Linked DNA regions of Homo sapiens. The protein of the gene in region 1 interacts with the protein of each later gene in a biochemical or structural test. Each region holds a gene or a part of one and is shown in the gene's direction. Other genes may lie near its edges.

Region 1 (3,654 bases):
TAGAATAAATGGAAAGAAAATAGCTGTAGCATCCTCTTATCCACACGAGTATTTGAGTTGGTGTATATATTTCTACTCGTTTGTCTGCTTATCTTGGAACTGAGTTACTCCAGAGCAAGAGTCACATATTAATTACCTTTGAATCCCCAGACCCAAGCCCAGTGTCTGGCACACAATAAGAATCATTAAGTGTTCTACAGGCACATGCTGGGTGAATTTTAGTAAAAAAGAGAATGGAAAATGCTCCTTAAAATCCGAAGGGATATGAAGAAGAAAGGGCATTAGAAAGGTCCGGGAAACAGCAAGGACTAAATAGATCAGTAGTAGAGAAAATTAGCATAGGTTATGATTACTGAACTATATGTATATGGTTTTATATATATATAGTCCATTTATATACACATAGTCTCTCTCTGTCTGTCTGTCTGTCTGTCTGTCTCTCTCTCTCTCTCTCTCTCTCTCTCTCTCTCTCTATATATATATATATATATATATATATATATATATATTCCTTTCAGTTGTGTTCTGGGCAAGAACACAACCCAAAACATGGTAAGCAGCTTGGCTTATCCTCTGTTTGATTGTTCTGCAGAAATGATTACGAAATGGGTCATGCCCTCCAATAGCTCAAAGCCTAATCGCCAAGATAGAATCTGCTGCTTTCTCTCATTGAACCCAGCCTGATAGTTTAGGCCTTAGGTCCATGTGCAGTTGTTTAATTTTGCAGGTGAGTGGCATGCCCAAGGTTACTCCAGAACTGAGATAGCGTGTCTGAGAGAAGACTGAAGCCTTCTCCATGTAGATGGTGGCCACATTTTTCATAGTGAAGTTCAAGATTTGTGCCGGACAAAGCATTTTCATTGCTGGTAGGTGTAACAGACCAGAAGTTATAGTTAAAAATGACAAAATAGAAATTTCAGGGACATTTAATAGTTTATGGAAACAACAGGACTAATATATTACCAAAGGGTCTATGCGGTAGACTGTGGTATCTGTCCTATGTCAAGTTTTGGAGTGTTGCTTTGGTTGTGTGTATTTAGAAGTGGTCTTCCCCAAACAATTCGGAGGAAGGGGGATGTTACTGGGAAAATGGAATTCATTGAATGCCCTGCTGAGTTAATAATAAGTAGATGAATGGCCAAATAAAGCAATATATAGATGGACGGCACCACCAAATATTATTAATAGAGATTTATTTACTTACATAGGATCAAGTCTTCTGTACGAAATACATTAGGAATCCAGACTAAGAATACTGGTTAAAGTTTAGCATTTCTGGGTTGACGTTTTAGCACAAGAAACACTTTACCCTCCATCTGGGAGCAAGGTATGAGGGAGACTTAGGTTCTACACCTAGAAGCTAAGTCTTCTAGACTCCCCATCTCATTCTCTTTTGTGACTGTACCACATGCCTTCTACTAAGATATAATTTGGATGTTTTCAGGTCATGTGCTATAATTCAATATGCTAATAAATTCCAAGGCAATTTGAATGGAATGTTGGTTTATAATGAGGCAACTCAGGAAAGACTACATCATCTTTAGTGGAAAATACTGTCCAAAAAATCCAAATAGTTAAATGATCTTATATTTGGGTTTTGTGCTTCTTTTATGTGTATATTCTTTGCTCTGATTTTAGTTAAGTATGAAAATGTCAGACAGCAAAAACTAGGAGGATTATATTTATATAAAAGAAAGTTTAGGGAATGAGATGAGTCATTTAGCCCATGAATTAATCAGCTGTGCTTTGAGGAAATAGTGCAGGAAGGTAAAATGGAACAAATAGACGAGAGAAGAAAGCGTGACTTCTTTTAGTCAACATATGATGGGGAAAGCGGTAGAGAAAAATTGGCTATTTGGTGAGTGATTCACTTGAGTTCCTTTTCAGTGGTCAATGTTTAAAGTGAAATCCTAATGAGATTGTTGCTGCCCTTTTTGTACGGCTCTGACTAAAAGAGGGAAAACAGTCATAATAATTAATTGAGAGGGGTATGACTTTCTGAGTAGATAAAAACATGATAGACTATTAGATAATGAATATTTATTGCTTGATGCTTCTCAGTCTGGAAGAGACACTTTCTGAATATTTCTCCGCTTTCTAACATTTCAGCTGTCAGAATTGAATGGTTCACATATAAACTACATTGTTTTGGTTTAACTAACAAAGAGTGATAAGACATGAATTGTTTGTGACAGCCCCGAACATTGATAACAGAAGACATTAATGCCTGCAGACACAGCCTACATGGTAAAAATCTGGAAACAAAAATGCTTATTATGTTAGGCCATCGTGCTTTGACCTAGTTTTGCTTTTCTGCTTGGAAATTATGTCAATATTAGTTACATCATCCCTTCGGATGAGCAATTCCACATTCTTGTTTATTTCAGTGTCATATTATTAGTTTTTGTATATTTAGTTCTGACCTCTGAGGAGCCAAACTAATCCTCATTGACTTGCATTTTCCTTTTGAAATGAGACTTCTGCATGATAAAGAGAGAGGATTTTATGTATTAACAAAACAATCTAAGATGCCTCTTTAAAGGCATTCATTTCTCCTTGATCCGGAGCTACTGCCCTCTTGAAGGTTCCTAGAGGCCATCCAGTTTTCTGCTGATCAGAATTAGTCTTTTTTTCTTTGTCTTATGGGGATGGAATAGATTACTGGGCCTAGAACTGCCATAGTTGAATAACAAAAAGTAAAACTGTGAGGCTGATGGGACATTTCCCAGCCCATCATCCTTAAATTTGCCCTTTTCATGTTTCTGCTTTACTTCTTCATCCAGCAGAAACGGGCTTAGCATATTTTTCCCATTTAACATTTTTATTGAATACTTTTCAAAATGAATTATTTCCGCAGTTGATTTCGAACACATTTTTTTCTGTCATTTAATACTTTATATCACTAGAGGAAAGAACCATTTAATTCTTTCATACATTTATGAATTCTAATCTTCAAAGAGTGTGAGTTCTTCAAGTGATCAACTTACATCAAATTTACAAGTATAATTTACTACCAAAAGACCTTGAACGCTTTTTGGTGCACATGTTTTGGCATTCCTTATTAACAAATGTAATGAGGCAAAAGCCCACAAGAATATGTATTCCTGGTTCCTCTTTAAAAATGTACCATTTGCTCTTATTTTCTAATTAAGGCTTTGAAGGTTAAAAATCCCTTTGTTGTTAGCTCCTTTACAAGTCTCCTGCCTGAGTGCAGAAAACATAAGAAGGGAGTGTCCTCTTCAGAGCATAACCAAACCAACTAAATTTTAACCAGGTAAATTGTTGATTAGCATTGGATCATGTAAAGAAACAGTATGAAAGTAATTGAGATAGGCACAACTCCTAATTGTGTGATCCCAGGGGGCTTCAAACATTGTTTGAAACATTCACCTCAGAGATTATATTCCATGTCTGATCCTTATGCTAATTTGAATACTAGGATCCTGAAGAAAAACTTTATAGGATTTCTTGAGTCCCTAATTGGTATGTAAACATCGTCATTCCCAAGCTGCCCAAAGTTGTGAATTATAGTATACCATGTGTCTCCTGTTGTGATATCAATTTCTACAGCAATTTTTCTGCTTGTTGTAGGCAAATGTAAATATATTTCCCTCCTCTTACACAAATAGTGGCCTTTCACATACATTATTCTTC
Region 2 (3,754 bases), on another chromosome or scaffold:
TTGAACCCGGGAGGTGGAGGTTGCAGTGAGCCAAGATTGCGCCATTGCACTCTAGCCAGGGCGACAGGGCGAGACTCCGTCTCAAAAAAAAAAAAAAAAGAAAAAGAAAAATGAAAGGTGGGAGGGGCCGGTGCGAGCAGTTGGGGTCCTGCTCTGTGGGGTGCGACCTCAGCCCAGGCAGGGCCTCCCTCCGTGGGGCACAGTCCCGTGGGTTGGGCGGGGGAAAGATACATAGCCAGACAGGAGTGAAGGGGGCTCACTCGGTACAGCGATGGGGGATGCCCAGACGCGGGGCACTCAAGTGGGGAGCTGGAGCCGGCTGAGCAGCGCTGACCTAGGGTGCAGGGCGTGGTCCCTGGAGGCCTGGGAGGCTGACCCTGCCCTTCCCCTCCCCCGCCAGAAGACTCGAGCTCTGGGCTCATGAACACTCTCCTGAATGGACACAAGGTAAGCGACCTTCTTCCTCTCAAAGCACCTGGGGGAGAAAGGTCTGGAGGCTTCTAGAACCCTGAGTCAGAGCCAGTGCTCGCCCAGATGTGTGCAAGCAGGGGCGGTGCCACTGCACCGTGGGATCGCTGTTGATTGTACTCCCACCGGGGTGTCCCAGGAGACCCTCCTAGGCTTGGGGCACACCCAGAGAGCGTGGCTGCCTCCTACCACCAGTAAATTGCCACCTTGTCCCTTCGTCTTAGGGTGGGGACTGCGATGGCTTCTCCACCTTCGATGTTCCCATCTTCACTGAAGAGTTCTTGGACCAAAACAAAGGTGAGCGGTAACTGCGCTCCTGATGCGAACTCCGTGAAACTGGGTGGTAGAGGGGGGCGTGGGCCAGGAGGGCCCCAAGACTGCAGGAGGCGGATCGGGAGGTTCCCTATGAGCGTCCAGGCGCACGCTGTCGCTCCAGAGGCTGATGTGGAGCAGGAGGCAGAGGGCGCAGTGAGGGAAACCTGGGCAGGGGCACGTCCCGGGCAAAAGCCCGGAGGTAGGGGAAAGGGGAGGCGCAGGCTTTGACCCCGCTCCCCCCGGCGCAGCGCGTGAGGCGGAGCTTCGGCGCTTGCGGAAGATGAATGTGGCCTTCGAGGAGCAGAACGCGGTACTGCAGAGGCACACGCAGAGCATGAGCAGCGCGCGCGAGCGTCTGGAGCAGGAGCTGGCGCTGGAGGAGCGGAGGACGCTGGCGCTGCAGCAGCAGCTCCAGGCCGTGCGCCAGGCGCTCACCGCCAGCTTCGCCTCACTGCCGGTGCCGGGTGCGGGCCACGCCCATCTCCCAGTCCCGCCCCGGTCACCCGGCCCCGCCCGCCTCCCCCCCCCTCCTCCCTTCCCCCCTTCCCCTGTCGCCCGGCGCCGCCCATCGCCCCGTCCCCTCTTCCCCAGTCACCCGGCCCCGCCTATCGCCCCGCCCTCATCACCCCCAGCTCCGCCTCCTCCCCGACCCCCGCACCCCTACCCCATAGCTCCGTCTGGTTCTTCCCAGACCACACCCGAGCTCCGCTCCGCGCCCCGTTACTCGGCCGGCTCCCTGACCTCGCCCCCACCGACCGCGCCTCCCGGCCACGACCTCTCCCGACGCGTCCCCGCTTACTCGCTTCCTCCCGCAGCCCCTTTGTGCCCCCACCCTTCGCGCCCCCACCGCTCCCTACCGGCCCCACCGTCGCTGGCCCCTCTCCCTCGCCAGCCCCCGACCAGCCTGAGCACTGACCCAGCCTCCCCGCTCGCCACGCCACGTTCCCATTCACCCCACCTCCCCACGCCCCCGTCACCCATCCCTCCCCACGCCCCGCTGACGCCTGAGCCCCCTCCACCACCCCAGTCACGTCCCACGCGACCCCAGCCCCCCGGTGTCATCCCCACCTCCCCGACCTCGTTCCCTCCGTCCGTGACTGTCCTCAGCGGACCCTGGACGCCCGCCGCTCTAGCCCCGCGTCCCCACCCTGTCCCCGTCCTCGCCATCCTCCTGCCCCGGCTTACCTTAGCCCACCCTGCGCCGCTCCTGCGCTGGCGGTGTCCGGACCTCTGAGCGCCCGCGCGACCCGCCCTGAGTCACCCCCTACCGCTGCCCCTGGAGCCCCCGCCCCGCGACTCCCCGGCACCCTCGCCTGACCTTCCCGCCTGTCCCCCAGGCACGGGCGAAACGCCCACGCTGGGCACTCTGGACTTCTACATGGCCCGGCTTCACGGAGCCATCGAGCGCGACCCCGCCCAGCACGAGAAGCTCATCGTCCGCATCAAGGAAATCCTGGCCCAGGTCGCCAGGTGTGTGCCGGGCGAGGCGGGGCGGGGCCGGGGTTCAAGGCCCGGATGTGCCCGCCCTGGGGTTCCCCAGGTCCGCGAGGGCTGCTGGGTGGGACTCCGCAGCTTACTAGAGATCACCTCCCGGAGGGGCCTACCTGCGGTCGCCCCTGATGCACCAGTGCTAGGATGGCCATGGAGAACCCCGGGCCGGCGGGACCCACTCGGGGGCACCAGAACTTCCCTAAAGCTTCTCAGGGTGGATCCCAGCGCCCGGGTTAGATAGGTTCAACGCCTGTCCCCCAACCCTGGCATCTGTTGGAGCAGCTGATGGGCCATGGTCTCTGGGGTTCCCCAGGGCCGGGGTGGGGGCCAGAGATGATGAGGGCCTCATCCCGGGCCCTCCTCTCTCGTTTCAGCGAGCACCTGTGAGGAGTGGGCGGGCCCACGATGCAGAGGAGAAGCTGTGGGCGCGGCCCTGCCACACCCCACCCCGTGGACGAGAGGCTGGGGGTCCACCCTTTGGGGCCTGGTCCCATCCTGCACCTTGGGGGCTCCAGCCCCCCTAAAATTAAATTTCTGCAGCATCCCTTTAGCTTTCAATCTCCCCAGCCCCCTGAACCCGGAAAAAGCACTCGCTGCGCGATACACCCAGAAGAACCTCACAGCCGAGGGTGCCCCTCCTCGGAGGACAGCCACGCGCTACACTGGCTCTCCGGGCCACCCCCAGGACACAGGGCAGACGAAACCCACCCCCAGCACACGGCAGGACCCCCCAAATTACTCACTACGGGGGGCTGTGCCATAGGCCACACAGGAAGCTGCCTTGTGGGGACTTACCTGGGGTGTCCCCCGCATGCCTGTACCCCAGATGGGTGGGGGCCGGCTTTGCCCATCCTGCTCTCCTCCAGCCGAGGGACCCTGGTGGGGGTGGCTCCTTCTCACTGCTGGATCCGGACTTTTTAAATAAAAACAAGTAAAATTTGTGTTTTAAGCTTGTGAGTGTGTAAGCTTGTTTGGGGTGGTGTGGAGGGTTCAGAAGGTGCAGCCTGGGCCCCCCATGACATTCCCTGCTGGGGGCGCCAGGCCTGCTCTCTTTACCTCTAGCAGAGCCTCAGAGTTTCTCAGATAGGGAGACGGGAGCCCAAACTTGCCGGGGTTCACAGAGCAAGTCAATGGCTGGGCAGGTGTCTCCATCCCTCCCCTACCTAAAGTTGGGCATTGTGGGCTCAGCACACGTGGGGGACTTGAAGCACAGGGGACAGTCACGGCTGCTCAGTTCATCCTTCAACTTGTGTCCGCACGGGGGTTCAAGTCCACTTTGTAGCACAGTGACTTTGGGTGGGCCACGGTTTTGTTTATTGTGTAAAATACGCAACATGAACCTTACCATCATAGCCATTTTGTTTATTTATTGGAGACGCGGTCTCACTCTGCCACCCAGGCTGGAGCGCAGTGGCCCGATCATAGCTCACTGCAGCCTTGAACTCCTGGGCTCAAGCAATCCTCCTGCTTCAGCCTCCCA
Region 3 (2,607 bases), on another chromosome or scaffold:
TGGGATACCAGAAGGTGGCAGATGGCAGGAGCTGGTTACCTGTGCCGCTTCTGGAGGGAGGCCTCTTCCTGCAGTTGCCTTGCCCACCTCACCCCACTGGGAAAATAGGTGGCTTGCCTCCTGTCCTGGAGAGTCACTAATGCATTCCCCACATTCCACCCACTGGGAAACAGCATAAACCCTGTGACCGGGAGGGTGGAGGAGAAGCCGCCTAACCCTATGGAGGGCATGACAGAGGAGCAGAAGGAGCACGAGGCCATGAAGCTGGTGACCATGTTTGACAAGCTCTCCAGGTGTGTGGCATGAGGAGGAGGGGCCTGCAGCTGGGAGAAGGGAGAGCTGACCCACATCCTGTCTTGTGAGCCCCAGGAGGTAGGATCAGAGGAGAGCTTAGGATCCTGGTATTAGGTTGCATTGCTCACGTTTGAAATCACTTGCCCTGGAGGAAATCCCCCAGGGGATGGGTATATTGAGATCAGTATTGTGCCCCTTTTACAGATGATAACTGAGGCCCAGAGAAATTAAGAGACTGTCTAAGGCCGGGCGTGGTAGCTCACGCCTATAATCCCAGCACTTTGGGAGACTGAGGCAGGTAGATCACAAGGTCAGGAGATCGAGACCATCCTGGCCAACATGGTGAAACCCCATCTCTGCTAAAATACAAAAAAAAAGTTAGCTGGGCGTGGTGGTGGGCGCCTGTAGTCCCAGCTGCTCGGGAGGTTGAGGCAGGGGAATCACTTGAACCCAGGAGGCAGAGCTTGCAGTGAGCTGACATTGTGCCACCGCACTCCAGCCTGGCAACAGAGTGAGACTTCGTCTCAAAAAAAAAAAAGAGACTAATGTCGCCAGATTTATTGGAGATGGCCCAGTGTCCAAATTAAGAGCCTGCTTAAGGCCAATTTAGATGTTTAAAATAGGAAACTGCTTAAAGCCAGGAGGCAGCAGTTAGGGTTTGGGCCCAGTTAACAGAAGGTCCAACCAGGCTTCCCCAGTAAATGGGAGCAGCCTACTTGGTAGAGAGGAAGGTAGCAGCCACGGGTGAGTAGGACCCCTGCCTGGCCAACTGGGCCCCTTCCCCAGCCCCACTGCACCTTTCCCCAACAGGAACAGAGTCATCCAGCCAATGGGGATGAGTCCCCGGGGTCATCTTACGTCCCTGCAGGATGCCATGTGCGAGACTATGGAGCAGCAGCTCTCCTCGGACCCTGACTCGGACCCTGACTGAGGATGGCAGCTCTTCTGCTCCCCCATCAGGACTGGTGCTGCTTCCAGAGACTTCCTTGGGGTTGCAACCTGGGGAAGCCACATCCCACTGGATCCACACCCGCCCCCACTTCTCCATCTTAGAAACCCCTTCTCTTGACTCCCGTTCTGTTCATGATTTGCCTCTGGTCCAGTTTCTCATCTCTGGACTGCAACGGTCTTCTTGTGCTAGAACTCAGGCTCAGCCTCGAATTCCACAGACGAAGTACTTTCTTTTGTCTGCGCCAAGAGGAATGTGTTCAGAAGCTGCTGCCTGAGGGCAGGGCCTACCTGGGCACACAGAAGAGCATATGGGAGGGCAGGGGTTTGGGTGTGGGTGCACACAAAGCAAGCACCATCTGGGATTGGCACACTGGCAGAGCCAGTGTGTTGGGGTATGTGCTGCACTTCCCAGGGAGAAAACCTGTCAGAACTTTCCATACGAGTATATCAGAACACACCCTTCCAAGGTATGTATGCTCTGTTGTTCCTGTCCTGTCTTCACTGAGCGCAGGGCTGGAGGCCTCTTAGACATTCTCCTTGGTCCTCGTTCAGCTGCCCACTGTAGTATCCACAGTGCCCGAGTTCTCGCTGGTTTTGGCAATTAAACCTCCTTCCTACTGGTTTAGACTACACTTACAACAAGGAAAATGCCCCTCGTGTGACCATAGATTGAGATTTATACCACATACCACACATAGCCACAGAAACATCATCTTGAAATAAAGAAGAGTTTTGGACAAAAATGTATGTGTAAATTATCAAATAAAGGGGCCAGGCACAGTGGCTCATGCCTGTAATCCCAGCACTTTGGGAGGCCGAGGTGGGTGGATCACTTGAAGCCAGGAGTTCGAGACCAGCCTGGCCAACATAGCAAAACCTTGTCTCTATTACAAATATGCCCATGTGCTAGGTGTGGTGGGACACACCTGTAATCCCAGCTACCCAGGAGAATCGCTTAAACCCGGGAGGCGGAAGTTGCAGTGAGCTGAGATCATAACACCGCACTCCACCCTGAGTGACAGGGCAAGACTCAAAAAATAAAAAAGGAACATTAACTAGGGTTAGAAACTAACTTCATTCTTTTTAGAATTCAACAGTTTTCCTAGGTCACCAATTCCACCTTTTGTTCTTATTAAGGCGCAAAGTCACAGGACCCCCTTCCTGGGAGTCACTGTCATTAAATCTATTGCCGTCAGCTCAGCCCAGGGTAGGCAAGGTTCAAGAATGGGAAGTGCTTTTGTCTGGGGAAACACGCAGGTAATGTGATGCTAGGAAGGAGGATGTGCAGGTGGGTGAGAGCCCAGGAGGGAGCAGCTGGTGCCTGACAGGGTGAGCCATCAGGGCTGGGCCTGGGTACAGCCC

The links.
Region 2: the proteins of MID1 (region 1) and HMG20B form a complex in vitro, tested with the Homo sapiens proteins (one study listed by BioGRID).
Region 3: the proteins of MID1 (region 1) and RIC8A form a complex in vitro, tested with the Homo sapiens proteins (one study listed by BioGRID).

The regions. Positions count from the first base shown.
Region 1 is NC_000023.11:10,610,552-10,614,205, reverse strand, and holds part of MID1 (E3 ubiquitin-protein ligase Midline-1), read left to right. Parts: intron 1-3,654. UniProt on the Homo sapiens protein: Has E3 ubiquitin ligase activity towards IGBP1, promoting its monoubiquitination, which results in deprotection of the catalytic subunit of protein phosphatase PP2A, and its subsequent degradation by polyubiquitination.
Region 2 is NC_000019.10:3,575,861-3,579,614, forward strand, and holds the end of HMG20B (SWI/SNF-related matrix-associated actin-dependent regulator of chromatin subfamily E member 1-related), read left to right. Parts: intron 1-400; coding exon 401-447; intron 448-692; coding exon 693-765; intron 766-1,031; coding exon 1,032-1,247; intron 1,248-2,120; coding exon 2,121-2,253; intron 2,254-2,648; coding exon 2,649-2,661; 3' UTR 2,662-3,223; downstream 3,224-3,754. UniProt on the Homo sapiens protein: Required for correct progression through G2 phase of the cell cycle and entry into mitosis. Required for RCOR1/CoREST mediated repression of neuronal specific gene promoters.
Region 3 is NC_000011.10:213,126-215,732, forward strand, and holds the end of RIC8A (chaperone Ric-8A), read left to right. Parts: intron 1-173; coding exon 174-293; intron 294-1,104; coding exon 1,105-1,225; 3' UTR 1,226-1,988; downstream 1,989-2,607.